Linked DNA regions of Homo sapiens. Each later gene encodes a partner of the first gene's protein in a complex. Each region holds a gene or a part of one and is shown in the gene's direction. Other genes may lie near its edges. The genes, in order: INTS7, INTS1, SEM1 and INTS2.

What was found.
Region 2: the proteins of INTS7 (region 1) and INTS1 are in contact, whole or in part, in a cryo-EM structure (PDB 8RC4), measured with the Homo sapiens proteins. Residues at the interface, in NP_056249.1 of Homo sapiens: His150, Asp151, Leu187, Ala188, Thr189, Pro190, Val191, Lys194, Thr223, Ser224, Tyr225, Pro226, Ser227, Thr228, Asn262, Asp263, Pro264, Arg265, Lys266, Pro303, Tyr304, Gln349, Glu350, Cys352, Tyr353, His354, Asn355, Arg357, Ala360, Gln384; in NP_001073922.2 of Homo sapiens: Leu1378 (codon at 1,127), Gln1381 (codon at 1,136), Gln1382 (codon at 1,139), Gly1385 (codon at 1,148), Gln1386 (codon at 1,151), Ala1389 (codon at 1,160), His1429 (codon at 1,280), Phe1430 (codon at 1,283), Leu1431 (codon at 1,286), Cys1433 (codon at 1,292), Pro1434 (codon at 1,295), Arg1437 (codon at 1,304), Gln1438 (codon at 1,307), Cys1440 (codon at 1,313), Gln1441 (codon at 1,316), Pro1476 (codon at 1,965), Ala1479 (codon at 1,974), Gln1480 (codon at 1,977), Met1483 (codon at 1,986), Leu1484 (codon at 1,989), Gln1487 (codon at 1,998), Arg1552 (codon at 2,841), Pro1554 (codon at 2,847), His1555 (codon at 2,850), Leu1556 (codon at 2,853), Glu1557 (codon at 2,856), Glu1558 (codon at 2,859), Pro1613 (codon at 3,103), Ser1614 (codon at 3,106), Gly1616 (codon at 3,112).
Region 3: the proteins of INTS7 (region 1) and SEM1 are in contact, whole or in part, in a cryo-EM structure (PDB 8YJB), measured with the Homo sapiens proteins. Residues at the interface, in NP_056249.1 of Homo sapiens: Lys410, Leu413, Asn414, Val417, Leu448, His451, Cys452, Ala454, Ala455, Met458, Glu488, Val491, Thr495, Leu517, Glu518, Ser521, Asn522, Gly523, Trp524, Val526, Tyr527, Arg528, Arg531, Gln532, Arg535, Ser548, Leu549, Thr551, Gln552, Val553; in NP_006295.1 of Homo sapiens: Ala36 (codon at 5,150), His37 (codon at 5,153), Val38 (codon at 5,156), Trp39 (codon at 5,159), Glu40 (codon at 5,162), Asp41 (codon at 5,165), Asn42 (codon at 5,168), Trp43 (codon at 5,171), Asp44 (codon at 5,174), Val48 (codon at 5,186), Glu49 (codon at 5,189), Asp50 (codon at 5,192), Phe52 (codon at 5,198), Ser53 (codon at 5,201), Gln55 (codon at 5,207), Leu56 (codon at 5,210), Arg57, Glu59, Leu60, Glu61, His63, Gly64, Tyr65, Lys66, Met67.
Region 4: the proteins of INTS7 (region 1) and INTS2 are in contact, whole or in part, in a cryo-EM structure (PDB 8RC4), measured with the Homo sapiens proteins. Residues at the interface, in NP_056249.1 of Homo sapiens: Leu38, Gly39, Glu40, Cys42, Glu43, Val46, Arg47, Asn77, Phe78, Leu81, Cys82, Leu84, Lys85, Gln88, Gln89, Asn114, Asp115, Pro116, Val117, Ala120, Ile121, Arg124, Val153, Glu156, Val159, Phe160, Ala163, Leu195, Lys196, Pro199; in NP_065799.2 of Homo sapiens: Gln27, Lys28, Val29, Cys48, Arg51, Met52, Cys55, Ala56, Ala58, Asp59, Gln60, Ser61, Trp64, Phe92, His93, Ala186, Glu187, Pro189, Ile194, Val218, Asp220, Ser221, Asn223, Glu224, Ser259, Leu262, Lys263, Arg265, His285, Gly294.

The regions. Positions count from the first base shown.
Region 1 is NC_000001.11:212,032,338-212,040,171, reverse strand, and holds the start of INTS7 (integrator complex subunit 7), read left to right. Parts: upstream 1-4,614; 5' UTR 4,615-4,734; coding exon 4,735-4,828; intron 4,829-7,834. Other genes in the region: DTL (denticleless protein homolog), read right to left, coding at 4,230-4,281. UniProt on the Homo sapiens protein: Component of the integrator complex, a multiprotein complex that terminates RNA polymerase II (Pol II) transcription in the promoter-proximal region of genes.
Region 2 is NC_000007.14:1,473,372-1,480,753, reverse strand, and holds part of INTS1 (integrator complex subunit 1), read left to right. Parts: intron 1-312; coding exon 313-437; intron 438-1,069; coding exon 1,070-1,324; intron 1,325-1,868; coding exon 1,869-2,028; intron 2,029-2,247; coding exon 2,248-2,388; intron 2,389-2,817; coding exon 2,818-3,001; intron 3,002-3,080; coding exon 3,081-3,204; intron 3,205-3,835; coding exon 3,836-3,960; intron 3,961-4,096; coding exon 4,097-4,184; intron 4,185-4,298; coding exon 4,299-4,525; intron 4,526-4,682; coding exon 4,683-4,806; intron 4,807-5,915; coding exon 5,916-6,049; intron 6,050-6,393; coding exon 6,394-6,586; intron 6,587-7,060; coding exon 7,061-7,188; intron 7,189-7,382. UniProt on the Homo sapiens protein: Component of the integrator complex, a multiprotein complex that terminates RNA polymerase II (Pol II) transcription in the promoter-proximal region of genes.
Region 3 is NC_000007.14:96,692,630-96,700,011, reverse strand, and holds part of SEM1 (26S proteasome complex subunit SEM1), read left to right. Parts: intron 1-5,120; coding exon 5,121-5,214; intron 5,215-7,382. UniProt on the Homo sapiens protein: Component of the 26S proteasome, a multiprotein complex involved in the ATP-dependent degradation of ubiquitinated proteins.
Region 4 is NC_000017.11:61,917,601-61,924,982, reverse strand, and holds part of INTS2 (integrator complex subunit 2), read left to right. Parts: coding exon 1-22; intron 23-3,155; coding exon 3,156-3,258; intron 3,259-5,469; coding exon 5,470-5,583; intron 5,584-7,382. UniProt on the Homo sapiens protein: Component of the integrator complex, a multiprotein complex that terminates RNA polymerase II (Pol II) transcription in the promoter-proximal region of genes.

The DNA.
Region 1 (7,834 bases):
AAAAACTTATAGAATAAGAATATGAAGAAATAAAATATTTTGTACAATTATACAATGTGTCTGTGCTTTATGCTACCTGTTACCACAAGGGTCAAAAAGTTAAAAAATTTAAGATGTTTGTAAGTTTAAAAGTTACAGTAAGCTAAGGTTAATTTATTATTGAAGAAAGTATTTTTTAATCAATTTAATGCAGCCTAAGTATAGAGTGTTTATAAAGTCTACAGTAGTATAATGTCCCAGGTCTTCGTGCTGACTGACTACTCACTCACTGATTCACTCACAGCAACCCCCAGTCCTGCAAGCTCCCATTCATAGTAAGCACCCTCCACAGGTGTTACCATTTTTTATCTTTTATATCCTATTTTTACTGAACCTTTTCTATGTTTAAATACACAAATACTTACCATTGTGTTACAGTTGCCTACGGTATTCAATACAGTAATATGCTACACAGGTTTATAGCCTAGGAAAAATATATAGCTTAGGTGTGTAGTAGTTACACTATCTAGCTTTGTGTTTATACTCTGTGATGTTTGCACAATGATAAAATCACCTAATGATGCATTTCTCAAAATGTTATCTCCATTTATAAGCAATTGGATGACTATATACGCATTTCTAAAACTCACCTGTCTGAAAAACCTGATGTCTCTGAGAAGGTTGAGGTACCACTTTTTCCCTTTCCCTTCATCACTTCCTTTCTTCCACTTTATAAAAGAAAGGCATTCCCGTGCCCCAATCTTAAACCTTGCACTGATCCAAAGAATAAAAACTTTTGGGTATCAAATATTTTTAAATAAAAACAAATAAACTGGTGGAACCTTAACTAAGAGATAATTAAATAATTCCTTCAATAAAGGGACCATAAACACCCAAATTCATCTCTTTAAAAAGATGGACTTCCAATAAAATTTTACTTTTGGTTAATAATTATCAAAATTGGTAATCTATATTGTTTTAATCAATCATATAGTACTAATAATTGAATTGAAAATTCAATCCATAAAGAAGTTTTAATACTTGGAGGCTTATGACAGAAAACAGCAATTTAAACACATTTTTTGACACAGAAGGGTATGACAGAGTGATCAGTAAAAGAGCTTTTCAAGCATAAAATTAAATTACATTAGGAGAAATTCTGTAGGAGAAATGAAATGGAAATAAATTCAAGAGGAAAAAGCAGCTATATGGAATGTCCAGCAGATAAAGAGGAGTTTGTATTTTTCTAAAAAATGGATGATGTGATTATCAAATCACTATAGTATTTAAATTATATTAGATACACTTAAAGGAGTGATATAGCATTTTTATTTTTAAAATGTCAATATTCCCAATATGGTCAGAAATTATATTCTTTGCATTTGTTTAAGTTTATAATAAAAACTTTTAGATATCAATTTAAAAATACACAGAAGAGTAATCAGATTTCCATTTTAGAAGGATCATTAGCAGCAATGTGGAGAATAAACCGAAGACAGACAAACTAGGAGGCCATCTGGGAGACTTCTTACAATCCAGACAAGAAGGCATTAGGGCCCAACCTAGGGAAATGGAATAGTAAAAATAGAACACATCCAGCATACAGTAAAGATGCATAATCATAACAGATAAAGAAGAGAGGATGGATTCAAGAGATTTTAACGAAATGTTTTGAATGTGTAACTGTGAGGAAGATGAAGAAGTCTTTAATTTACTCAGGTTTCTGGCAGGTTTAAATAATGAGGCCACTCTCTAAAATTGGTAATATTGCAGGTTTGGGGGAAAAGCTGAGTTCAGTTTTGGGTATTTGAGTTTGAGATGCTTGTGGGATTGACCGTCTAGGTGCTAATCAACCCACACAGCTTTTATAGAAATGAATCTCAGGTACAGGAAGTCTTCCAATAACATAATTTTGTACAATGTCATTTCGTTATACTGTTCATGAGGAAAAAATCAATTCCTGTTTGAGGCCATTGGCCGTGTGGAGTTTGTACATGCTCTTCCCATGTTCATAGGGGTTTTCTCCAGGTACTCTGGTTTCCTCCCACATGCCAAAGATGTGTATGTTAGGTTCACTGGTGTGTCTACATGGTCCCAGTAGACAATGAGTGTGTGTGAGTGCTTCCTGTGATGAAATAGTGTCTGGTCTAGAGCTGGTTTCCACCTTGTACCATGAGCTGCCAGGATAGGCTCCGGGCACCCACAGCCCTGAGCTGGAATAAGTGTGTCAGAAAATGAATGAATACAAATCATTGTAAAATAAAAATGGGTAAACTTTACAATAATCATACAAATGAATGACAATAAACGATTTGGTATGAAAGGGCTCAGTGAGCTGCCATATTTGTGATTGTTTTTGACCTGGGTGGTGGTAGGAGGTGCTCCTTCCAATTTTCACTTTGCAAACATTTATTCCTTGATTTAGCCCACCACCACTATGACCGAGGTCACTCGCTGATACACCAAAACTTGGATAATTATCTCACCTGTTTTTATTAATCTTTCTCAAATATATGTATAGCACACAATTATTTCAACATTTAATATTAAAAGTACTTTGAGTCTTTCTTTAGAAGTTCGGTGGTGTTTGTGTGACCAAAATATGCCACTGAAACAATTCTTATTTATATCAAGTAGCCTATGGTAGAGTTAGTTTAGTTATACACTGTTTTCCCTAAAGTCACAGTTTCCAAGAGCCTATCTAGACATTAAGTGAGGACTTACTATATAAGTAACAGAAGGTTGTATGTATGTAGAAGTGGAAGAAGCCCTGGTTGTGGCTGTGATCATCCAAAGGAGTAGGTAGAAGAAGAAAAGGGGTCAAGGATGGAACACCAACACTGAAGAGGAAAGGAGATGATTCTATAGATTTCATATAATAACGAATGAATTTCAGTGACTATTATGTAACAACGAATGAGTACTTGAGAATAGGAAAGAGGGAAGGGAAAGGTAAACACATGGAGAATTAGGAGAAAATCTGTCACAAAATAGAGGCTGAACAGCTCCCCCAGAACACACATATAGTAAGGTGTGGAAGTATAATAAAACCCAGGCAGTTTAACTTCAAAGACAGAGTTCTTAGCCACTGTGCGTACTGTCACTCTTAAACAGAGGACAAAGAAGTTACTCAAACAAGGTCCCAGGAGAGACAGAAAGAGGAGCATTTAAGTATAATTACAAAGATTATCTAAGAGGGAAATAAATAAGGATGGTATAAAGTTTCAGACTGCTAGCAGGAAGTTGAGGGACTACTTCTCAGTCTCTTTCTCAATATTATTTTCCTAGACTCATCGCTGAATATAAAAATTCCCTTCTCAGGTTCGTTTTCCACATAGTTTCAAGGGGAAAAAGAACCTCTGGCTATAGTCGACCTTCACATGAGTGAGATTTTATTTCTGTCCAAGGTTAATCTGGGTAGTTAGCTCCCTTATCTGAAACTTACCAAAAAGTTTAAGTTGATGACATCCAAATCTAACCTCAAATCTCTTATTGCCAATGTTTTAGCGTAAGAAAATAAGTTAGATTTCTACGTATTAACATGGGAATACGTTCAACTTATACCATTAAAGTGAAAAAACTGGACGTTTTGATCCGATTTCTGAAAATAATAGGTATTACCTCTAGCGTCGAAAACATCTGGAATAATATACTTCAATCTATTAACAGGGGTCATCTCTGGCGGATGTGGTTACAGGCATCTTTCACTCTATAATTTAAATTTTTATGACCGTGTAGTAAACGGGGAAAATAAGATTTTGTTCCTGTTAGAAGCAGATATCCTGTCTTCTCTGCTTGACTGAGTTCCTTAACAGCGGGTCATATTCACTGGTATATACCTATAGCACATAGCTGGGCTCACTAAGATTCTACAACAAACGAATGAATTAATCAATGATTAGGAGTTTTGAGCATCTCAAATAACCGTTGAAGGAAACATATACACACAAATGCATGCATTTTCCCGTTAACGCGCAATGGAGATGTAAGCTGTAAGGGGCCTTGGAAGGCAGTTATTTCGACGTCCCTGCCTACGTTACGATTTTAAAAGCCCGATTACGATTACAAGTGTCCCGAGGGGATGAAAGTACAGCTTTCTTTAGTAGTCCCTGCTAACACTAATTTACCCTTGCCATGGGAGAACTCAGAAGCTGAGTTCAGAATTGGAGTCGGCCCTGGTCGGAGGTGGCGTGTGTTTCGGGGGAAATGAATTCCGCCAGCTCCGAGCAGCGGTTGGGACCGTTACTCACCATTTCTCAGGACGCCAAGCTGGGGCTGGCGGAGCACCGAATTGAAGAGCATCAGGGTCGGAGGAAAAGCCTCAGCTGAGAGAAAAGTCGTAGAAATGCCTCCAAGTTCAGCAGAAATCGCAGCTTGCGCCTCTCACAACACAAATCGTTATCGCCTCCAACTCCCGCCACTGTAAGCCCCGGCCGCCAAACTCCGCGCCAAACTGACGTCACGCTCTCTGATTGGCTTCCGAGCGACGTCCGGGCGCCTCAGAGTCATTTCCCCCTTCGGATCCCCGCCTCCTTTTCTCCCAGCCGCGGGAACCTGGAGTCCAAGAGCTCCTTGAGCGCCTGCGCAGGGGGTAGCAGAGGCGCGGACAAACCGCGGGGTGACCAGGGCGCATGCGTAACAGGGCTTGACAGCGCGCGGAAGAAAAACCAGCAAGAAGGCGGCGGGGGAAGATGGCGGTCCTGGGGTAGAGTTTGCAAGCTTTCTGACTAGGCTAGTCGAGTAACTATTCGGGTCATGGCGTCAAACTCAACTAAGTCTTTCCTGGCAGATGCCGGCTATGGCGAACAGGAACTGGATGCCAACTCTGCCCTTATGGAATTGGACAAAGGTATTCGAAAGAGAGGGCTGAATGGGTGAAACAGGCGTGGGGGGAAGTGGCGCCACCAGGTGGTGGTTGCTTTGGGAGAAGACGGATAGGCGCATGCGCATGTCTTCGCTGGGCGGGGAGCGCCTGTGCTTTTGCTGGGGCGTGGGCTTTGACCCCTTCGGGAGGTTGCGGGAAATTTGCAGGATTGTGTGACTGGCCTTATACCGGCTAAACAAGTAGCGAGCTCTAGTGAGAGGCCCGTTTTGACCACTTGAGGGAGCAGTCCCCCGATTTTCTAAGCAGTGACAGTGGCTAGTTTCTAAGAGACACTGCAAAGAAATTGTGAAATTGGTTTTCAGTCTGTTCAGTTGAGACCAGGTCTTCATGAAATGTGCTGAATAGTAATCTTGCACCGACTTGACAGCGATTCATTTGATTTCCATAGCTCTGTTACCTGCGGGTTACAAGGCAGGCTAAACCTGGCCAAGACCATAAAAAAGCAAGGGCCCTGCTCATTCTCTGCGGACAAGTTCCAGGAGTTCTGTTGCCGTACAGGGAGCAGCTTGGTGTAGAGGGAGCTTTGGGGTTACACTGAGTTAAGTTTCAATGCCGCTGATTTTATGATTAACTTCATCTAGCCTCGGCTTGTCGTCTGCAAAGTGGGTACAGTACCATTGAGCCGGCAGAATTGTATTAAGTGACTTAATGGTATGCAAAAGAAGCATTTAGTAAATGCTGAAGAGATATACCTCCCTTCTTAGATGTGGATATGGGAGGCAAGGTCGGAAATTTGTTAGTAAAGAACTCGACTAGTAATATGAAACCTTTATTTCATATTGAGGATTTTTATTGTACGGGAAACATTTCGGCAGCTGGTATACAATTAAATCTTGATTAATCGTAGCCAATATATAATGTTGGAGAACTGGACTAGAACTCAGAAGGGTTTGAGCCACTTCCCAGTTTTCTGAGTTGGACATGTCTATTAACTTTTTTGGGACTCTTTTTCTGTTTATTTTTTAAACTGTGAATATTTTTAGTGGGTTAGTCTAAATAAGAGTTTCTCAGGCTCTTAAAAAAGCTTTTACCTTATTTTGATAAACACAAAAATTTCACAGCCCCCTAATGGGATATTCCTTTGGTTGAGTCTCAGTATCTTTAGTGCACCCCCATCAACCAAGAAAATTATGTTGAACTTTTCCTTCTCTTACCAAATCTTTAGGGGTTTTCTCCTCTGAAAAAAAAAAGTATAATACTAAATGTGTTTTTCTCTTTTTTTTTGGAGACAGAGTGTTGCTCTGTTGCCCAGGCTAGAGTGCAGTGGCGCCATCTCGGCTCACTGCAACCTCCGCCTCCCGAGTTCAAACGGTTCTCCTGCCTCAGCCTCCCGAGTAGCTGGAATTACAGGCGCCCGCCACCACGCCCGGCTAATTTTTGTATTTTTAGTATAGACGGGGTTTCACCATGTTGGCCAGGCTGGTCTCCAACTCCTGACCTCAGGTGATCCGTCCGCCTCGGCCTTCCAAAGTGCTGGGATTTACAGGCATGAGCCACCGCGCCCGGCCTTAAATGTGTTTTTCAAACACTTTCCTCCTCATTCTGATACATTTCTTTCTTATTCCTCAGTGAAAGTTACAGGTCAGGATAATATCTAATATCCCTACGAGTTCTAAGGACATTTTCTACCATTCTGGTGCAGCTGAGCTTGTCTCATGCTGACAATAGGATAGTGGTTGTGGAACAGGGATAAAGATGGGGCACTGAAGAGGAGTCTAGAATGGTTTAATTCCTCAAATTTTGCAGTTGTAAGAAAAAAACCACAATTTTTCCTTTTTAAAGAAGAGTTGAAATGAAAATATTTTATATCTATAGGAAAGAAATCAGGTGTCAATCTTAGACACAGAGTAAGTGATCATTTGCACTCCTCCCAGCAATGCCTGGCGTGAGTGTTTTACAGGTGAATCTCAGGCTCAGAAAGATGACTTGTTCTTTTTCATCTCATCTGTAGTAACTTTTAAAGCTGTTAGGAAATTAAGTTATAGAAATAGCCAGTTTCGTGTAGAATATAGTTGAGTATTTTAAATATTGAGTCATTTCATCTTGTACCTGTTAAAGTATTTCTGTTTTGTGAGCTAAAGGTCAGAAGGCTACAAGTTCCAACTCTTTTTTTCGTTCCCAAACTCCAAGGAATACTGTTTCTGAAATATCTCCCCCACCTCAGCATACACACTCAGACACATGACTTATTTGATCGGGCTTTGTACTAGGAACATGGCAGTTAATGAGACAAAACTCCTGCCCCTATAGAGCTTACATTCTAGACAGCAGATGCAGACACTCCGCAAATATAGCAAACGTGACAGTTAGTGATACATATTATAAAGGAAAATGAAGCAATGAAAGGGACTGGAGAAAACTGATCTGGGGCTGGAGTTGATTTCTTATTTTATGAAGTATAGGCAAGAAAGACCTCCTCAATCAAGTGGAAGAACAGCAAGTACAAAGGCCCTGAGGTAGAAGCCTCCTTTGCATGCAGTTATCTGGAGCAAAGTAATAGGCAATGAGTATAGAAAGATAACCAGAGTCAGTCGGGCGTGGTGGTTCACGCCTGTAATCCCCGCACTTTGGGAAGCTGAGGCGGGCGGATCACGAAGTCAGGAGATCGAGACCATCCTGGCTAACATGGTGAAACCCTGTCTCTACTAAACAAAATACAAAAAATTAGCCAGGCGTGGTGGTGGGCACCTGTAGTTCCAGCTACTTGGGAGGCTGAGGCAGGAGAATGGCGTGAACCTGGGAGGCGGGGCTTCCAGTGAGCCGAGATCACACCACTGCACTCCAGTCTGGGCAACAGAGCAAGACTGTCTCGAAAAAAAAAAAAGAAAGATAACCAGAGTCCCGTTCAGGTAGGGCCGTGCAAGCCATCAAAAGGACTGGCTTTCATTCTGAGTGAGAAAGGAAACCATGGAGGATTTTCAGCAGGTGTGTGACATGATCTGACTTTCCTTTGAAAAGTATCAGTCTGGC
Region 2 (7,382 bases), on another chromosome or scaffold:
GGACGGGGCCTGCACAGCCACACAGGGCAGTGCACACTTGCTGATGCCACCTGAGAGGGGCCCCCACAGAAACTCTCAGCCTGTCTTTGGGCAGCATTTGCCTCTGGCCAGCATGCACGTTCCTGTTCAGAGTCTTGAGATCCCTGTGGACCTGAGCGAGACCTGGGGTCCTTGGGGAACACAGAGCCCAGGTCTGAGCTCTTCCTCCTGGGTGACAGTCCCCGGGCAGGACTCGCCATGGCTTGTACAGTTCCCACCGCTGGAAGCAGGTCAGAAAGTGTCCAGCCACTGACAGTTCTCCTGTCTCTGCAGACAGCACAGAGGCACCCAAACCAAAGAGCAGCCCAGAGCAGCCCATAGGCCAGGGCCGGATTCGGGTGGGGACCCAGCTCCGGGTGCTGGGCCCTGAGGACGACCTGGCTGGCATGTTCCTCCAGGTAGCGTTGCTGCTGCATGTGGGTCTCCACCTGCAGCCCCTCTTCCTGCGTGCAGCCTTCGCTGCCGCCTCGCACGCACAGCGGCCTTTACTTGCGTGACCGCCTGACCCAGGCACGCTGCACACGCACAGCGGCCTTTACACGCGTGACCGCCTGACCCTGGCACGCTGCTTTCACGTAACACCCCCATGCTCTCAGATGGAGGCTAGGCCAACATTGGGGAAGGGGGTCGCCCTGCATCCTCCCTGCCATCCTTGCACACCCCTCTGCGCGGGGCACCCGGTTTGATGTGTACAGAAGCTGAGGTTGCAGGTCTCGCCTGAGGTCTGGCTGTTGGAGCCGGGGATCCTGCAGGCCTCACCACCTCCTGATGGAGAGCCTGGTGGTCCCTGGGCAGGCTCTGGACACCTTTGTTCTCTGGGGCAGCTCCTGGGTGTTGGGGTCCCTCACTGCTTCACATCACAGGTCTCAAGGGCCCTGGGCCCCTCAGGCCACAAGGTGGGGGCTACGAATGAACAGGGACACGATGGGACGCGGTTCTGGCACGGAGCTGCACCGGGCGCTTAGCCTCTCCGCTGCGCTCCTCCTCCTTCTCCTCCGCTTCCTCCTGACACTGGCCTTCCCCGTTCCAGATTTTCCCGCTCAGCCCGGACCCTCGGTGGCAGAGCTCCAGTCCCCGCCCCGTGGCCCTCGCCCTGCAGCAGGCCCTGGGCCAGGAGCTGGCCCGCGTCGTCCAGGGCAGCCCCGAGGTGCCGGGCATCACGGTGCGTGTCCTGCAGGCCCTCGCCACCCTGCTCAGCTCCCCACACGGCGGTGCCCTGGTGATGTCCATGCACCGTAGCCACTTCCTGGCCTGCCCGCTGCTGCGCCAGCTCTGCCAGTACCAGGTACTTGGGCGTGGGCCTCTTGCGGGGGAGGAGGGCAGTGAGGGCTCTGCCTCCCGCAGGACGGCCCGGGTGTCCTGTGACTGCTCCTCTGTGGGTCTTGGGTCTCAGTTTCCAAGTGAGAAAGGACAGTGCCCCAGGGAGTGGCGGCAGGTCCCCTTTTTCCAGTGAACATTCCCCCGGGACGGGAGGTGGGGGCAGTGCGGCGTCCGCCTGTTTGCACCACCCAGGCTCGGCGCTCCTGCCTTGCTTTCCCCATCTGCTGGTACCTAGGACTGTGTTTTACTTGGTGTCTGTGTTTACTTTTTCCTTTGAACCGCGTGGGAGCCCTCACCAGCTGGGGGGTTTTGAAAGGGTCTCTGTGAGGTCGTCTGGGCCCGTGCAGGGGAGGCACCGTTTCAGACAGGAGGCGGGATGAGGTTGGCCCAGGCTCCAAGTGCCGGTCGCGGCAGGTCTCAGCAGCCTCACGGGCCCTGCTCTGGGCCTCGGGTGCCGGGTCCCCGTGTGTCCTCTGCCAGGGTAGCCACGTGCCACTTTGTCCCCGCAGCGCTGTGTGCCACAGGACACCGGCTTCTCCTCGCTCTTCCTGAAGGTGCTCCTGCAGATGCTGCAGTGGCTGGACAGCCCTGGCGTGGAGGGCGGGCCCCTGCGGGCACAGCTCAGGATGCTTGCCAGCCAGGCCTCAGCCGGGCGCAGGCTCAGTGATGGTGAGGACCGCGCCGGGCTGGCAGACGGCTGGGGGGCACTGGACAGGGGCTCACTCAGAGTGGCCAAGCTGCCTGGCACCCCGAGGCCTGGGCAGTGGCTTGGGGGGTGGGTACCCGCGTGGGCCCAGGGGAGCCCTTCTACCGTGGGGCCTCCCTGGATGGGATACACCGATGGGGTGAGGGCTGGAGCCACAGGGCACTCACACAGACCTCCCACAGTGCGAGGGGGGCTCCTGCGCCTGGCCGAGGCCCTGGCCTTCCGTCAGGACCTGGAGGTGGTCAGCTCCACCGTCCGTGCCGTCATCGCCACCCTGAGGTCTGGGGAGCAGTGCAGCGTGGAGCCGGACCTGATCAGCAAAGGTACCTTCCTGGCACCATCCTCTTGGGCCACGGCGGCCCTGGGAAGACCCAAACCTGAGGCTCCTTCTAGCTGCCCAGTGGGGGACGGACAGTGTCTGCTCAGCACTGTCCCCGGAAAGTGCCCACAGAGGTCCCCTCCCAGATGGCTCAGGGCGGGGCCTCTTGAGAATGAGTTGGAGCTTCCTCCTTGGGGGGCCCCTGATCACTGCTGCACCCAGCAAAGTGAGCCCCGGCCCCGGCCGCACTCTCCAGCCCCGGCCGCACTCTCCTCTCCGGCCCCGGCTGCACTCTCCTCTCTGGCTCCGGCTGGACTCTGCTCTTGTGTCCCACACATGCTCACCCCACACCCCACCCTGGCTAGCCCACACCCACTCAGCGGCCCCCACCCGACCTGGGAGTGACCCACATGTCTCTTTGTCCCTTGCGCAGTCCTCCAGGGGCTGATCGAGGTGAGGTCCCCCCACCTGGAGGAGCTGCTGACTGCATTCTTCTCTGCCACTGCGGATGCTGCCTCCCCGTTTCCAGCCTGTAAGCCCGTTGTGGTGGTGAGCTCCCTGCTGCTGCAGGAGGAGGAGCCCCTGGCTGGGGGGAAGCCGGGTGCGGACGGTGGCAGGTGAGCTGGGGTGCTGCACACGGCCAGGGTGGGCAGGCGGGTGGCACCAGCCCTTCCCTGAGCCACCTTCTCCCTGCAGCCTGGAGGCCGTGCGGCTGGGGCCCTCGTCAGGCCTCCTAGTGGACTGGCTGGAAATGCTGGACCCCGAGGTGGTCAGCAGCTGCCCCGACCTGCAGCTCAGGCTGCTCTTCTCCCGGAGGAAGGTGGGTGGCACCCAGCTTCAGCACGGGGACCCACCCCAGGGTAAAGGCTCTTCCTGACCTGAAGTGCAGCAGCCTTGGCCTGGGCGAGCCTTGCAGGGGCCCCAGCACCCCCCCTGCTCTCAGGCCATGTGTCCCTGTAGCAACCCAGAGGAAGGGTAGGTCCCCCAATGGCCCTAGCAGAACCCAGGCCAGGGTCACAGTCACCTGTGGACCAGCACTGTGACCAGCCAGATGTGGGGATGGGGTGGGTGGATGGGGTGGGGTCGGCCCTGCCAAACCCTGTAGATCATGTAGGGGCCTCCATCTTCCCAAAGGGAATGGGGCTGTGGCCAGGAGAAGGGAGGGCAGGTGCTGGGCTCCCCACATCCTCCAGGGAGGGACGGCCTCACCAGAGAGGCTGCATGGAGCCCCGGGCACCTCCGCTGTGTGGCATGGCTCCCGTGGGAAGGGGCGGGGAGATGCAGCGCAGCCACCAGGAGCGGCCCTCCAGCACCATGACGGGGCCGGTGTTACCGGCAGCACCCCAAGCCTCGGCTCTCTGAGTGGCTCATTGGGGAAGCTGTCAGCTGACTTCAGCAGAGCCTGCCATTGGCCCAGGTGAGGCCATCCGGGCTTCTTCCTCCCTCCCCAGGGCAAAGGTCAGGCCCAGGTGCCCTCGTTCCGTCCCTACCTCCTGACCCTCTTCACGCATCAGTCCAGCTGGCCCACACTGCACCAGTGCATCCGAGTCCTGCTGGGCAAGAGCCGGGAACAGAGGTGGGCGCCTCCCTGTCCCCAACCTGGGCTGCGCGCATACTGGCCTTCACCAGAAATCTCCCAGCGCCGGCTCTGACTGGTATCTCCCATGCTGAGACGAGACACCTCGTGCTCTGGAACCTTTGCCTCCCCACAGGTTCGACCCCTCTGCCTCTCTGGACTTCCTCTGGGCCTGCATCCATGTTCCTCGCATCTGGCAGGGGCGGGACCAGCGCACCCCGCAGGCAGGTCTTGGGAGGGTGGCCCATCCGGGAGAGGGGGTGGCCCATCCGGGAGAGGGGGTGGCCCATCCGGGAGAGGCGGTGGTGCTCCGGGGCTGATGCAGGCACCCGTTACAGAAGCGGCGGGAGGAGCTGGTGCTGCGGGTCCAGGGCCCGGAGCTCATCAGCCTGGTGGAGCTGATCCTGGCCGAGGCGGAGACGCGGAGCCAGGACGGGGACACAGCCGCCTGCAGCCTCATCCAGGCCCGGCTGCCCCTGCTGCTCAGCTGCTGCTGTGGGGACGATGAGAGTGTCAGGAAGGTGACGGAGCACCTGTCAGGCTGCATCCAGCAGTGGGGAGACAGGTGCTCAGGCCCCCCGGCCCCAGATGCTGCCTGGGAGTGAGCCATGGAGGGGGTCGAGGCCCAGCCCTGGGTGGGTTCCCATCACGCCTGGTCCCGTCCACCCACCCCTGTCACTGGGGCCCCGTCCGCCTGGTGAGCCCTGCTCCACCTCTTCCAGCGTGCTGGGCAGGCGCTGCCGAGACCTTCTCCTGCAGCTCTACCTACAGCGGCCGGAGCTGCGGGTGCCCGTGCCTGAGGTCCTACTGCACAGCGAAGGGGCTGCCAGCAGCAGCGTCTGCAAGGTGAGGGCGCAACTCTGCCGCTCCCCGCCGCCGTCCCAGGTGCCCTGGCCGGGCAGGGAGGGAGGGCGGAGGCCACAGTGTACATGGCCATCGCCGGCTACCCCTCTTGCCCCTTCCCAGTCCGCGCCGCCCTGTGGCCCTGTGGGTTTGTCTGCGTTGAGTTTTATACCGAGGGAGCTTGCGGGTGCTCTGCTCGCACAGTCTGGAGAGTCGTGGTGTTGTGGGCACTGGGTGGCCTGCCATTGTGTGGATCGGCCGTTGGTTTATCTGTTCACCTGCTGGTGGACGTGGGGTCACGTTCAGTTTGGGGCAGTGACAGCTGCTGGGGACTCGTGCCCGGGTCTTGGCGGACGGCTGCGTCTGCTCCTCTCCAGTGACCCTGGTGGGGAGAGCTGGGCCTCCCGTACCCGCTTCCCCACCGCAGGCCGGAACCTGCAGCCTGTCTTCTGCTGGTACCACAGAGGGCAGCTGACTTTCTCTAATCATTTCTGCTTGTGGTTTTTTTCACTTATATGTCATTTTATTTGTTGAAATCACACTTGATGTGCAGTTTTGTGGAGGGTTTTTGAGGCAGGGTGTCTGTTGCCAAGGCTGGAGTGCAGCGGTACCATCATAGCTCACTGCAGCCTCAACCCCCTGTGCTCAAGTGAGCCTCCCACCTCAGCCTCCCGAGTAGCTGGGATCACAGGCACGTGCCACCACACCCAGTTACTCTTTTTGTATTTTTGAAAATAGAGAGGGCTATTTTCATTGCCCAGGCTAGTCTTGAACTCCTGGGCTCTGGTGATCTTCTGCCGCGGCCTCACAGAGTGCTGGGATGGCAGGCGTGAGCCACTGCGCCTGCTTGGCCGATGTGTAGTTTTGGCTTGTTTCCCGCTCATTGTATCATTTGGTGTGGAGCTTTGCTTTTATTCTGTATGGGGTTTTCCCAGAGGCTGGCTGTGGCCTGCCTGCCCTCCCGAGGTGCTCATGGAAGCCGTAAGGAGCCAGTTCCTCTGCTCATGGCGTGCCACGCGGTGGATCACGGCCACAGCTGGCGGCCAGGCTGAGTGTGGGTGGGCAAGTGAGGGGAGCCAGCGGCCCCGGCCTCAGAGCGCCCCTCCCTGCAGCTGGACGGACTCATCCACCGCTTCATCACGCTCCTTGCGGACACCAGCGACTCCCGGGCGTTGGAGAACCGAGGGGCGGATGCCAGCATGGCCTGCCGGAAGCTGGCGGTGGCGCACCCGCTGCTGCTGCTCAGGTGCTGTCCCAGAAGCCCTGCCCTCGCCAGACACTGGTTTAACCAGGGGGGTCTGCGGCTCTCCAGCCTGGGCAACAAGAGCAAAACTCCAAAAACAACAAAAAAAAGCATGTTCCCATGGGCTGAGCTTGACCGGGGGAAGTCAGGACTGAGCTGGGCCTCAGGTGGGAGGAGCTGGGTGGGCCTCAGAGAGGGGCGATCTCATCCCCACCTCCTTAGGGCAGGAGGGTGGTTGGGGGGCAGCACGGGGTCTGGCTCCCGGGGCAGGCAGTGGGGCCTTCCTGGGGACGTGCGCCAGGTGAGCCCGCCGGCCGGGGCTGACTGGGCCCTCACCGCGCCCGCAGGCACCTGCCCATGATCGCGGCGCTCCTGCACGGCCGCACCCACCTCAACTTCCAGGAGTTCCGGCAGCAGAACCACCTGAGCTGCTTCCTGCACGTGCTGGGCCTGCTGGAGCTGCTGCAGCCGCACGTGTTCCGCAGCGAGCACCAGGGGGCGCTGTGGGACTGCCTTCTGTCCTTCATCCGCCTGCTGCTGGTGTGTGCTCCCGCCGCCCGCCCTCGCGCTCCCTTCCACTCCCTCTGCTCTGGCCCAGGCCTGCCTCACCCACTCGCGGAGGGACTGGGAGGACCTCTGCAGCCAGGGCCCAGGCCAGGCCACCTGCCCTGGGGACCAGCTCCCACCCTGGGAAGCCCCTGCCTGCTGCCCCTCACGTGCCTGGGGGGCCCACGTCCTTCAGAAGCCCAGCCCAGACCCTCCGTGCTGTTCTCTGCGTGTCGCTTGTGCTACCTCGAGCCCCTCATCCATCTGGGCACATGCCCCAGACAGCCATGTCCACACCCTGACAGGCCATGCCGGCCACCCTTGGGCCTGTGACGCCCCAGTGGTTGGCAGAGGGGGCTCGTTGGCTGTGGGGTCCATGCCCTGAGGCTCTGGGAGCAGATGGGAGCACAGGCTCTGTTTTGGCCCTGCGGGGCAGAGCAGCTCGAGGGTGCCGCTTTTGCTTTGCAGAATTACAGGAAGTCCTCCCGCCATCTGGCTGCCTTCATCAACAAGTTTGTGCAGTTCATCCATAAGTACATTACCTACAATGCCCCAGCAGCCATCTCCTTCCTGCAGAAGCACGCCGACCCGCTCCAGTGAGTGCCCACGGGCTGCAGGGAAGCCTCGGGCCTCCGGCGAGGGTCCAGCGGGGTCTGGAGGGTGTTCCTGGGAAGGCCGTGTCGTGTCAGATATGCTGCTCCTGAGGCCGGGGAGGGCTGCTGAGCGTGGTGCTCATCCCAGGGCGCAGAGGCCGCCCCACCCTGTGCCGAAGCCGTCTGAACCCACCCCT
Region 3 (7,382 bases), on another chromosome or scaffold:
CCAAGGTCACAGTTAATTAGAGGCTGTCTTGAAGCAAATTTGACTTCTATAGATATTTGTCTTTGAACTTAGTAAGTAGTAGTTAAGGGAGAGAAGAATCAGTGGTTTTAACACCAAGCTAGAGTGCTTTAGTATTTTGGAAGTGTTTATCCTGGGGTGGGACTCAAAGCCCTTTTCTCCCTACCACCAATTAAACCATAGCAACATTGCCTTTGTTTCTCTTACCTGTTGGGCTTCTGAGTAAGATGTAATTTGGTTTCCTTCAACTGATAGTAAAGTGCAACAGCAGTTCAAAAGAAACAGATTACTTCCAGTTATGTACAGTGCGAGGTAGCAACCTTTGAACAGGGCTTTCAAAAGAAACGTAGGAAAGGGGTTTTCAAAAGAAGGGAAAAGGTGTAGGTGCTTTGAAGTGAAAAATAAATGTGTATGTATATTGTATTTGCTTATGAAATAGTAGTTGCAAATGCAGGTGGTTTGTGGCCTCAGCATGGAAAGCTTTAAGCCTCTGACCAGTTTGGACTTAATCCTTAATTAACTAGATGAGAAGTGGTTTTTAAAATGTTTTGTTTGTTTTGCTTATGACAGTGATATGTGTAAGTTTCCTTTAGGCAATATGCTGAAACATTAACCCAGCAGAATTAATTTGAAAAGATAGAAAGACTAGAGTCAGGGAGGTTAATTAGCAGATTGTCGAAATAACTCAGGTGAGGACTAAGGGCGAAATAAATTATTATTAGAAATGAAGTGAAGAGAATGATGCCACAACAGTAAGGGAGGTAGAAGTGATGAAGCATTAGCAACTAGTTTGATATGGGGTGTTGAGAATAAGAAGAAATCTGGGGTTGTGATTTTGCCCATGCGTGTCTTAAGAATATGCATGGTGAAGTTGAGATTGGATACCCTTGACTCAGTAATTTGAAGGGTAGATCAGAATGAGGGTACCAAGATGAGATGAATCTAGGGCATAAGGGCTTGGAAAAGATGAGAGTAATGGTTTTTGTAAATTTTATGGAATTAAAATTAAAGCCACAAATCTACCAGGTTCAGGAAGCGAAAGAAAAAACAAATACATTTTTAAAAATTTATGCTGGAGAGGATGTGGAGAAGTAGGAACGCTTTTACACTGTTGGTGGGAGTGTAAATTAGTTCAACCATTGTGGAAGACAATGTGGTGATTCCGCAAGGATCTAGAACTAGAAATAACCATTTGACCCAGCAATCCCATTACTGGGTTATACCCAAAGGATTATAAATCATTCTACTATAAAGACGCATGCACATGAATGTTTATTGAAGCACTATTCACAATAGCAAAGACTTGGAACCGATCCCAATGGCCATCAGTGACGGACTGGTTAAAGAAAAGGTGGCACGTATACGCTGTGCAATACTATACAGCCATAAAAAAGGATGGGTTCTTGTCCTTTTTAGGGACATGGATGAAGCTGGAAACCATCATTGTCAACAAACTAACACAAGAACAGAAAACCTAACACCGCATGTTCTCACTCATAAGTGGAAGTTGAACAATGAGAACACATAGTAGACACAGGAAGGGGAACATCACACACCTGGGCCTGTCGGGGTGGGAAGCAAGGGGAGGGATGGCATTAGGAGAAATACTTAATTCGTGTGGGACTTAAAACCTAGGTGATGGGTTGATGGGTGCAGCAAACCACTGTGGCACATGTATTCCTATGTAACGGACCTGTACATTCTGCACATCTATCCCAGAACTTAAAGTAAAAAAAATCCCAAATCAACAAAGAGAACCAACAAAGTGGAACCATTCTGCCAGACTTATATTTTTTTTAATTGTTGATGAAAATAATTGGGTTTGGATTTCCTTTTTAAAAAATGTAAGAATAGTTATGAATGATTATGAAGTTATTTTGATCCTTTGTTTCAGACTCTGCCACAACTGAAAGCTCACCAACAGCCTGCCAATAAAAACATTGTTTATGACTTGCTTTTTGTTTGAAGTTCTCCACTAACAGTTTTGGTCCTTGTTAGAGAAAATATAGTAGCAAAGTGGTGCCGTGCTACGTATTGATTTCTTAGTCACTGACTAGACATTAGATCTGCAGGGTATACGGGTGTTTGCATTATGATAACCTACAGAAGTGAAATTTTCAAAAAAAATAATTTGTTTCATACACCCTCAGCAGGAACACTTGTAAATTTATCTCAGAATCACTGGATATGGTGTGGCTTCATTATCATACTCATGAGTATAGTGATGCTGTTTGTAAGTATTGCTCTTCTCTTTTACACACACCTAAGATGGTGAATGTTCAATTTAGTATTTTTCTTTTCATGTAATGTTCTGTATATACTTGCATGTTTTGTATTTGAAGAAACTTGGTTGGAGATTAGGTTGTTTATGTTCAGAATACCTTTATTTTTATGGAATAAGAATTCGATACTCTTGAAAATTGGTGTAGAATAGAACATTTGCAACCCTATTTAGTATGAGTGGGATTTCCTTTTTACTTTTCTCAAAAATGCTATATTTCATGCCTTTCAGAAATTTGGAAATGTATGTTGCAGAGTAGGGGAAAGTAAGTATTAAAAGAATTTTCTAAGTTGAAAGAAGATTCTTTTTGTACTTAAATGTCAAGGTGATACTTAGGTGAAGTATGTCTTAGATCTTGGATAGCTCAGATTTTTTAAATTTAAAGCTAGTCACAGATGTAATTCTCAACTAGCCAAAGTGAAGAAAGCCCAATTTGGGACAACGTCTAAAATAAGAATTGCTAGAAACTTATGTATTAGGCATCTGTTACTGGTTATTTCCAATTCTGACTTTTTAAAATGTAGGGTTTTTTTTTTTTTTTAAACCAGTACACATCTGGAGGCATACACATTGAAGCAAATACAGCTGTGGTTATTTACATGATTAATCACAATTCTGGCAATGCATTTAGTGTTTAAGGTAAAGTGTATGCTTTATAAGGCCATCTACATATTGAAGGATGGCATTAGACATGAGGTATATCAGATATCATGGGTATCATTGTTTGGTTATATTTTGTCCTTTTCAAAACTATTTCTGGAGTTAACCCTTTAAAACTGAGTGATTAAAATTGCTTGGTTGTCAGTGTAGTGTTAGAGTTGAAAATTAAAACACAATTCAGAGATCCAAGAAGATGTCAGCTAAACCCAGAGATTACAATAGTTACAGCTTTTTCATGTTATACATTGAGTAGAGTTTGTATGTATTGTAACTTACATATATTGTAACATGTATGTATAGTATAGAGAATTTGTAAGTGTTGGACATACTATTTTGGGGCATTATACCCTATCACATAAGCTTTTTATGTAATATAGTTAAGTACATAATCCAGGTTAATACACTGTTTAAAATATCCATCCAAAATAGATTCTGGTTTGTCAGTGTTAGCACTATTTTTCTTAACAGTGCTCATATTAATTTTAACTGCTTAATAAGTTGTAATAGAAAGGTTATTTCTCAGATTCCTCATCTATGATAATTGGAAGGGTGGTATGCTATTACGTAGACATTAGTGCTTCTTACTGCTTAAGATAATGGTATTAAGGCTACAAAGTTTATCTAGATTTATCAGATAATTAACGAAGAATTTGGCCAGCTCTTTCGTCTTTGTTTACTCAGTAGTGTCATAACTATGAAGTACTGTATAGTAATACGAAAGAACTATAGAGGTATTGTTATGAATCTTTTTTATATGTTCTACCTAAAATGTTGCTCACAGTATTCTTTTTCCCCCTCTTCATGAGCCAGTTCCTTTTTCCTGGGACTTTATCTCTACTTTTTCCTTTCCTTTCCCAGCCATTAAAATAGGGTGAGATGGTTATTAGACGAGGGAGAGATGCTTTATCTTTGTTGTAAATGATCATCAGAGTTTAACTTTATAAACTAAAAAAATTGTACCATTCTTAAATATTTTTCCCCTCTCTAAGTTAAAAGAAGTAAAGTCAACTTGAAGACATCACTTAATAACTATTGAAATAACATTTTGAATCAAATCATAATTAGATGAAAAATTTTGTTTCTTAAAAGATAGTTGCTTTAAAAGATAAGGCTCTACAGTATTTTTCAAAGACTTACAAGGTTAGCAGAAAAGTGTAAAATATTATTTTATATTTCTGGCTTGAATCTTTTGACACATGATTATTTCCTTTTTAGGGACCAATGCAGATGGAAGCGACCTACTTAACAGTTTAGGAAGCTGGTTATTTGGAAGTGGTTCAAGCTGAGTAGAATCTGCTTGTTGTCTTAGAACCTTGAAACAGTTCTGTTGTGATTTTGAGTTATGTCACCCCCTTTACTCAAGAACATAGTATCTAGTCTTTATTTAAATTATTTTTTTGTAACATAAAACTCCATTAGACATCTTTATAAAGACTCCTTAAAATAACTATCAAATAGATAATTTCTATTTCCAGGCTCAACCCACATAGCATATTTAAAGCTTGAGATTTGAGGTTAGAGAATAGTGGTAATACGTACGTACTTTCTCACCATTCTAAACAAAAGCTGAAATCTCAATCTAAACCTCCCCTCTACCACTACCAAAGGGAGGAAGAAAATCTAGAAAACTAAAAACTACAATATTCTTCTTTATGCATATTTATGTTTATTCTTCCTTTAAAAATATAAATTTTGTATCAGTTGTATTAGGCAGATACTAGTGGTGGCTTACAGTTTGGTCTACTTTTAAATATTTGTATATAAGTTATCCTTACGTTTTGCAGTTTTGAATTTCACACTGGTATCTTCCTGCCATTCAACTTGCTTTAGGGTTGTTGGTGTTGTGTTTTGAAAGATTGTGAAGTCGACCTTCTAAAAATGAGTTCAAAGAAAAATCAGTAAAGTAAATATCCTCCTGAAATTGTAAGTTTCTTGGCAAGTAGAATTTTTTGTATTAACTTCTGTTTTAGGTTATCTGCAAACTCAAGAATTGAGAGAACTAGACAGCATAAGCTCAGATTTAAGGAAGATACCATTTTTCATAGATATGGTTTTAGCTGTTTTTGAATTGTGAGTGTTCAGTAGCAAGCTTTTCAAAGTTTTTGTAATTGTGGAAATAATGTATGAGAAATATTTAGACAGCATCTGTTTCTATTTTTAGACTGGGCTGGCTTAGATGAAGATGAAGATGCACATGTCTGGGAGGATAATTGGGATGATGACAATGTAGAGGATGACTTCTCTAATCAGTTACGGTAAGTTTTAAGCCAGATTTTTATTGTAGTTCAGTATTAATTATAAGCATGGAATATGTAATTTACATAGATGATTAACCTCTTAAAAGCTACTTAATCTTTGAAATAGGTTTTTGAACTGTGTAAAGTAAGACATATTGTCTTCATCTCCTGTGATTCTAAACATGAACACTTTGTGTAATTGCATACAACTTTTATTCTTTCTGGTCTTTTTACAAAGGTAGTAAAATAGAAGCATATTTGCTATTTCTTATCCTTAGGAATTTAATTCTGTCAATGTTAATTTTCTACCAATATCAAATAACTCAGCAGAAATTAGAATCATAGAGTGCTGGGACCTAATAGATTGGTGATTCTCAAACTGGAATGGAGATTGGGGTTGTGAGAATGTACTGTGTCATATTCATGTATAAATCTACCTGATTTCATTTATTTATTGAGGTAAAATTCATGTAACATAAAATTAAGCATTTGAAAGTGTACAGTTCAGTGGCTTCTAGTACATCCTCAATATTGTGCAACCATCATCTCTATTTAGTTCCAGTATTTTCAGCATCCCAAAAGGAAACACAGTACTTGTTAAGCAGTCATTCCACGTTCTTTCTTGCCCTAATCCCTGGCCGCTGCTGATCTGCTTTCTATCTCTAAGTATTTGCCTGTTTTGGAAGCTTCATATAAATGAAATCATACAATATTGTGACCTTGCGTGCGTACCTTTTTTCACTTAGCATAATGTTTTCAAGGTTCATTCATGTTGTACCATGCATCAGTACTTCATTCCTTTTTATGGCTGAATAATATTCATATACATGTTCCATATTGTATATTCCAATTTATAATAATACTATATGGATATGCCACGTTTTATACATTCATCAGTTGATGGACATTCAGACTGTTTCCACCTTTTAGCTATTGTGGATAGTGCTGCTATGAACGTACGTGTACATATATTTGAGTACCTGTTTTCAATTCTTTTGAAAAGAAATTTTATATATATATATATACACACACACACACACACACACACACACACAAGTGGAATTGTTGGGTCATACGTTAATTCTATATTTAACTTTTTGAGGAGCTGCCAAGCTGTTTTCTACAGCAGTTGAACAATTTATGTTCTCACTAGCGTTCGTACTAGCAGGGTGTGAAGGTTTCAGTCTCTCCACATCCTTGCCAAAACTTATTTTTCTTTTTTGTTTTAAATTATAGCCGTATTTTAATCTATTTTTTCTTTTGTTATTTGTGCTTTTGGTGTCATATTTAAGAATTCATTGGCAAATTCAATGTAATGAAGATTTATCTTTGTTTTCTTCTAAGAGCTTTATAGTTTTTGCTCTTACATGTCAGTCTTTGCTTTGGGTTAATTTTTGTATATGTTATGAAATAGGGCTTCAGCTCATTCTTCTGCATATAGATGTCTAGTCTTTCCAGCACCATTTGTTGAAGAGACTTTTTTCCCTCCTAATTTTATTTTGATTCAGGCTGTATTTATTTGTCTTGGCTACAAGAATAAATAGACTGTCATATACTTTGCTCAAGTAAAGATATAGAAGATATATGTATTCCAGTCTTCTAATTTACTAGTCTAGTAAGCTTGTTCAAACAGAAAGTGAAATAGTTTATAATAAATTTTTAAACTTTGATTTCTAATAGTAATGCAGTAGCACCAGCTCCTACACTGCATTTTTTTTTATTGGCTCTATAAAGACTTAGAATTTTGCTGGAGACTGATAATAATTTTACCTATCTACTTTTTTTCTCATTTTTAGAAATAGTATAATTTACCTTTCACTGTTATACTGATACTTCTACAGTTTTTCATTTCCGTGTCTCAAATATTGCTGACTGATTTTTGACTACATCTTTTGGTTCTTCTAGTACCCTGAGATGTAATTATCCAGAGCCTTGAGATTTTAAACTGCCTTAATGCAGTTATCTTACCTGTCTTAGTTTTCAATTTTGTCTTAATTATGTTGTTTTTCCTTTTATAGTTTTATGGACAAGATAAAAATGATAGCTATTGAACAATAATCCTGCTTTTTCTCTAAAATCTGTTAATGTTACATCATCTGTTCCAAGCATTGTACCTGCTCTTTCTCATTCTTCATGATCAGTATATGGCTCTTAGAAGCCCCTTCTGTTCTTTTTACAGATTTCAG
Region 4 (7,382 bases), on another chromosome or scaffold:
ACTGTTGGCAATTATGAACAAGGTGCATTTCTTTTAACCACAGCTCAAAGTATGCATGATTTGATGTCTATGTATAGGGAGGTAGACAGAAAAAGAGACAAGAAGTCAGGCAGGTTGAATTCTCCTCTACTCTTATTTTGTTCTTTTTTTTTGGAGACGGAGTTTCATTCTTATTGCCCAAGCTGGAATGCAGTGGTGTGATCTCAGCTCACTGTAATCTCTGTCTCCCAGATTCAAACGGTTCTCCTGCCTCAGCTTCATGAGTAGCTGGGATTACAGGTGCCCGCCACCACGCCCAGCTAATTTTTTGTATTTTTAGTAGAAATGGGGTTTCACCATGTTGACCAGGCTGGCCAGGCTGGTCTCGAACTCCTGAACTCAGGTGATCCACCCGCCTCAGCCTCCCAAAGTGTTGGGATTACAGGCATGGGTCACCGTGCCCGGCCTTCTCTACTTTTATTTCTATATATTTGTTTTCCTTTCAAAGCCTGAAAGGATATTATAAGTCTGCCTTAAAGTCCTTCTCTTAATTATCATTTTCTCTCATTTATACTTGTTCTGCATTTTCTATGAGAGGGATTTTTTTCCGTATGGAATCCATACACAGTGGCTTCTTGACATTTAGAAAGGGATTTATCTCAAGGCTTGTACAGATTATCAAATTTATTAGCAGATAATACCTTTATGGGATACAATTTCTCCCATAAAGTGTAATGAAGTAACATTTTCAATAACTGAATGTGAATAACTGAAAAATGTATGTGATTCATTTAGACACTGGATGAGCAGTAACAGCCTCATATATGACAGCAGAGGGGAGTATCAATGCTGAATTGAATGTAGGATGATTGGCTAGTCTCAATCACTAAATGACCAAAGTGCTTCTTTACACTAATGAAAGCTATTCAAGTTATCTTCTTTGTAAAATTATAGATTACTTAGGTCATAGACCTTTGGGTAATATAGTTAATTGAAACTCTGAATTTAAAATTTTTGAATGTCAAAGTTCTATCATATAAATAACTAAATTAGCTGGGCGTGGTGGTGCACGCCTGTAATCCCAGCACTTTGGGAGGCCGAGGTGGGCGGATCACCTGAGGTTGGGAGTTCAAGACCAGCCTGACCAACATGGAGAAACCCCGTTTCTACTAAAAAATACAAAATTAGCCAGGAGTGGTGGTGCATGCCTGTAAAAGAATTGCTTGAACCTGGGAGGTGGAGGTTGTGGTGAGCCGAGATTGTGCCATTGCACTCCAGCCTAGGCAACAAGAGTAAAACTGCCTCAAAAACAACAACCACCACCACCACAAAAACCCACTAAATTAGATCTTTATGTTTATTTACTGTTATAATTTTGGGGAGTCAGTTAATTTATAGTAAATAAAGTTTAGTTTTATAAATTGTGGACAAAAAGAGAAAGGACTAAATTCTGTTTTCATAGAAAATACTGGTAGAGAGGATTTTGGTGAGTTTTAGATAGTTTTTTTTTTTTTTTTTTTTTTTTTGGAGACAGAGTCTCACTCTGTCGCCCAGGCTGGAGTGCAGTGGCACAATCTCGGCTCACTGCAAGCTCCGCCTCCCGGGTTCACACCATTCTCCTGTCTCAGCCTCCCGAGTAGCTGGGACTACAGGTGCCCGCCACCATGCCTGGCTAATCTTTTGTATTTTTAGTAGAGACGGGGTTTCACCGTGTTAGCCAGGATGGTCTCGATCTCCTGATCTCGTGATCCGCCCTCCTTGGCCTCCCAAAGTGCTGGGATTACAGGCACGAGCCACTGCGCCCGGCCGAGTTTTAGACAGTTTTTAAGGTATGTTAAAAAATTTTTCTAAAATTTCCATCACCAATTATAATTTCCTTCTCTTTTTTACTATTTTGATACTTTTATTTATTTTTGTTTGTTTTTTTGAGACAGAGTTTCGCTCTTGTTGCCCAGGTTGGAGTGCAATGGTGTGATCTTGCTCACTGCAACCTTTGCCTCCTGGGTTAAAGCGATTCTCCTGCCTCAGCCTCCTGAGTAGCTAGAATTACAGGCACCCGCCACCATGCCTGCTAATTTTTGTATTTTTAGTAGAGACGGGGTTTCACCATGTTAGCCAGGCTGGTCTCGAACTCCTGACCTCAGGTGATCCTCCCACCTCGGCCTCCCAAAGTTCTGAGATTACAGGCATGAGCCACCATGCCCAGCCTATTTTGATACTTTTAAATTTCAGCCAAGAGTTTTCCTTCATCTTTTCCGTAATACCTCACTTGGTGACTCTAATAAATAAGTGACCTTTCTCCTCTGGGAGATTTCCAATTTTTTAGTTTGGCACTCTTCATTATATAGGAAATATGGTTATGAAACTATTGTGCAGAATTTCCAAAAAGCTTAGTAGATTTTGTTATCTAAACTTTAATTCTTTGTTTTTCCAACAGTTTATTCAGAATTGAACACGTATATATATATATATATATATATATATATATATATGTTTGTTTGTTTTCTTTTTTCTTTTTCTTTTTTTTTTTTTTTTTGAGACGGAGTCTCATTCTGTCTCCCAGTGTGGAGTGCAGTGGTGCTATCTCGGCTCACTGCAGCCTCCACCTCCCGGGTTCAAGCGATTCTCCTGCCTCAGCCTCCTGAGTAGCTAAGATTACAGATGGCCACCATGCTTGGCTAATTTTTATATTTTTAGTAGAGACAGGGTTTCACCATGTTGGCCAGGCTGGTCTCGAACTCCTGACCTCAGTTGATCCACCCATCTTGGCCTTCCAAAGTGCTGGGATTACAGGCGTCAGCCACTGCACCTGGCCATGAATTTATATTTGTTAAACTGCTTTAGGTTGACTGTTCTTGGCTTTTTTAAAGCAGTTTATGTAGGCTGCATTTGTAGTTCATTTCTTTGGCTTGCCTTATCCTTTAATTCCAGTTGTCTCCAAATATTTAGATAGAAATCAGTTCTTGAGATTGATACTGCTATATCTGAATAATAATTAACATGACTGCTGTGTGTGGTTAAATTGGTTGAAATTGATTGAATACTGCATATTCTGCTGTGGTATATTAGTGATACATTAAGAGACATAATCTGTGAGCTCAAGAAATAATTATAAAAATAGGGATTTAATTATCTGAAATTAATAGAGTTTATATCTTTTTTTTTTCTTTTTTAAGGTGTCTGAGTCCAACGGAGAATTTTTTTTCAAGTCTTCTGAACTTTTTGAGAGTCCAGTATATTTGGAGGAAGCTGCAGATGTACTTTGTATTTTACAAGCAGGTACTGTACTGAGTGCTAAGATGGATTTCATATATAGTTTCTTGTTAAATGATACTGTGTAACTTCTTAGCCTGGTATGCTGTGTTATTTTAGGGATCATATAACAAACATGTTATGTGATTTTAAGTCAAAAGTGACTAATAGTTGGACAATGATTAAGTAAATTATATTATTTTCATAGTGTGACATATTATGCAGACATTAACATGGTATCTTTGATTTAATGACTTTAATGCTCGTTAATGATTTTGGAAAATGTTTACAATATGTTAAGTGAAAAAAGCAAAGGGCAAAGTGTTAAGTAGACTATAATCCCAGTTTTGTTAAAAGTTCAAGAACAATACCCTTGATGAATTAAAATAAAATACTTATTTTTTTTTAGAGACAGAGTCTTGCTCTGTTGCTCAGGCTGGAGTACAGTGGCAGGATCATAGCCCACTGGCTTGAATTCCTGGACTCAAGGGATCCTCCCACTTCAGCCTTCTGAGTAGCTGGGACTACAGGCCTGTGAAAACATTTTTTATTAACTTTGAATTCTGGGATTAGGGCAGATTTTAATTTTCTTCTTCGTACCTTTTTGTATTTTCCAGATTGTATATAATAGGTGTGAATGATAGAAATAAAAGAGGACAGAAAAATGTAAAGAAGGCTGTCGCTCATGCCTGTAATCCCAGCACTTTGGGAGGCCGAGGCAGGAGGATCACTTGAGCTCAAGAGTTCAAGACCAGTCTGGGCAACATAGTGAGACCTTGTCTCTACCAAAATGAAAAAAATTAGCCTAGTGTGGTGGTGTATACCTGTAGTCCCAGCTGCATGGGAAGCTGAGGCAGGAGGATGGCTTGAGCCTGGGAGATTGAGGCTGTAGTGAGCCATGATTGTGCCATTGCACTCTGTCCAGAGTGAGACCTTGTCTTTTTTTTTTGAGATGGAGTCTCACTCTGTCACCCAGGCTGGAGTGCAGTGGTGTGATCTCGGCTCACTGCAACCTCCGCCTCCGGGGTTCAAGTGATTCTCCTTCCTTAGCCTCCTGAGTAGCTGGGATTACAGGCATGCGGCACCATGCCCAGCTAATTTTGTATTTTTAGTGGCGACGAGGTTTCACCATGTTGGCCAGGCTGGTCTCGAATTCTTAACCTTGTGATCTGCCTGCCTCAGCTTCCCAAAATGCTGGGATTATAGGCATAAGCCACTGTGCCTGGCTGCAGACCTTTTCTTAAAAAAAAAAAAAAAAAAAAAAAGTATAGGCCAGGCACGGTGGCTCACGCCTGTAATCCCAGCATTTTGGGAGGCCGAGGTGGGTGGATCACCTGAGGTCAGGAGTTGGAGACCAGCCAGGTCAACATGGTGAAACCCTGTCTCTACTAAAAATACAAAAATTAGCCTGGTGTGGTGGCAGGCTTCTGTAATCCCAGGTATTCGGGCGGCTGAGGCAGGAGAATCGCTTGAACTCTGGAGGCGGAGGTTGCGGTGAGCTGAGATTGCGCCATTGCATTCCAGCCTGGGGGACAAAAGCGAGACTTCGTCGCAAAAAAAAAAAAAAAAAAGCAAATAAGATTTTCGTGAAAATAACTCTTTAGACCAGTTCTATAAAATAAAATTTCCTGTACTGTTCTATGCTATGCTGTCCAGTGTTCTTTGTGGCTGTGGATTACTTGAAATGTGGCTAGTGTGATTGAGGAACTGAACTGTTTTTAATATAAGTATCCTTATGTTGCTAGTGGGTATCCTACTGGACAGCTTGGTTCTAGACTATGAAAAGAAAGTACTTTATTTTAGATGACATTTGTGAAATGTCAAAAGATATTTAATAATACAATGAAATGTCATTTTTGGTTGGGCATGGTGGCTCATGCCTGTAATTCTAGGAGTTTAGGAGGCTGAGGCAGGAGGATTGCTTGAGCCCAGGAGGTTGAGGCTGCAGTGAGCTATAATCACACCACTGCACTGTAGCCTGGGCAACAAAGCAAGACCCTGTCTTAAAGAAGAAAAAAAGAAATATCACTCTTTAACACTGGGTCCAGGCATGGTGGCTTATGCCTGTAATCTTAGCACTTTGGGAGGCTGAGGCTGGAGGATCACTTGAGGCCAAAGTTTGAGACCCACCTGGGCAACACAGTGAGATTCAGTCTCCACAGAAAATAAAAAAAATTAGCTGGGTGTGGTGGAGTGCACCTGTTAACAAAGACTAACACTGACTTTGTTTTCTTGTAGAGCTCCCTTCCTTGCTCCCTATAGTTGATGTAGCTGAAGCTTTGCTACATGTTAGAAATGGTGCCTGGTTCTTGTGTCTCTTGGTGGCCAATGTTCCTGATAGTTTTAATGAAGGTAAATATGATTCTAATATGGTATATTGAAAAGACTTGCTTGGACATGTACAGGACCTATCTTTTTGACCTAAGAAGAAACATTAATGGGATTTTATTTGAGATTTTATCTTTTGAAAGTTTGTTAGTATGTATAAAGAAATATTGAGTTCACAAATTGTATTGAGTTTAAAGATCAGGCTGGGCGCAGTGGCTCACACCTGTAATCCCAGCACTTTGGGAGGCCGAGGCGGGCAGATCACAAGGTCAGAAGTTTGAGACCAGCCTGGCCACTATGGTGAAACCCCATCTCTACTAAAAATACAAAAATTAGCTGGATGTGGTGGTGGGTGCCTGTAGTCCCAGCTACTGGGGAGGCTGAGGCAGAAGAATCGCTTGAACCTGGGAGGTGGAGGTTGCAGTGAGTCGAGATCGCACCACTGCACTCCGGCCTGGGCGACAGGGCGAGACTCCGTCTCAAAAAAAAAAAAAAAAAAACCCCAAGGAACTAGAAGATGTAATATCTATAATCAGGGATCAAAGAAGATACATGTATCAGTGAAATATCAAGAGAGCAATACGGGATATGTATAATGAGAAATGCTAGGAATCAGACCTTTGTTTTTTAGCCCTACTGCTGTCAGTTTACAGAGAAGTATAAAGTAGAAATTGAGAAAAATCGACTACATTTTTTCACCTCTATTTAAAACTTACAGTGATTGAAGGTTGTTGTTTGGGTATGAGTGATATAAAAATAAAAACATTTTGTTGAGCAAGGTAGTTTGTGAATTAGGAGCCTGGGAGGAAAAAGTACTGGAGTTATAATTCCTGATTTTGTCATTCACTTATTGTGTGAGCTCTATCAAAATACTTCTCATCTGGCTGGGCACGGTGGCTCATGCCTGTAATCCCAGCACTTGGGGAGGCCGAGGTGGGTGCATCATTTCAGGCCAGGAGTTTGAGACCAGCCTGGCCAACATAGTGAAACCCCGTCTCTACTAAAAATACAAAAATTAGCTGGGCTTGGTGGTGGATGCCTGTAATCTCAGCTACTCAGGAGGCTGAGACAGGAGAATTGCTTCAATCTGTGAGGTGGAGGTTGCAGCGAGCCGATATGTGCCACTGCACTCCAGCCTGGGCAACAGAGTGAGACTCTGTCTTAAACAAACAAACAAACCAAAATACTTCTCATCTGTAAAATGGAGATATTGATAGTGTAATAGTTCCCTGACTTTTTTAAGAGATTTATTGAATATCAGATGATATGTAAAAACTCTTTGTAAACTGTGTCCTTGCCGATTTTTTGTCAACTTGTTCTGTCAATTACTGAGAGAGGAGTTTTGATGTCTCCAGACATAATTGTGGATTTGCCTATTTCTTCTTTTTGTTCTGTCAGTTTTTGCTTCATGTATTTCAAAGCTCTTTTGTTGGGTTTATATGCATTTAGGATGATTATATCTTTATGATGAATTGAGCCTTTTTTTCATTATAAAATATACTTTTTTCCCCAAGTCAAATTTGATTTCTTTATTCTTAGTTTTCACATTTATAGTTATATCCCCCTTTCTAAACATTATTTACATATTATTCAATTTGTTGTCACCTTTGTTTTAATTTTTCTTTTTAAAAAAATTCGAAGTTTTATTTTAGATTCAGGGGGGTACATGTGCAGGTTTGTTACATGGGTATATTGTATGACACTGAGGTTTGGAGTTTGAATGATCCCGTCACCCAGGTTATGAGCATAGTACCCAATAGGTAGTTTCTCAGCCCTTGTCCCCTTTCTTCCTCCCCACTGGTAGTCCCAGTGTCCATTGTTCC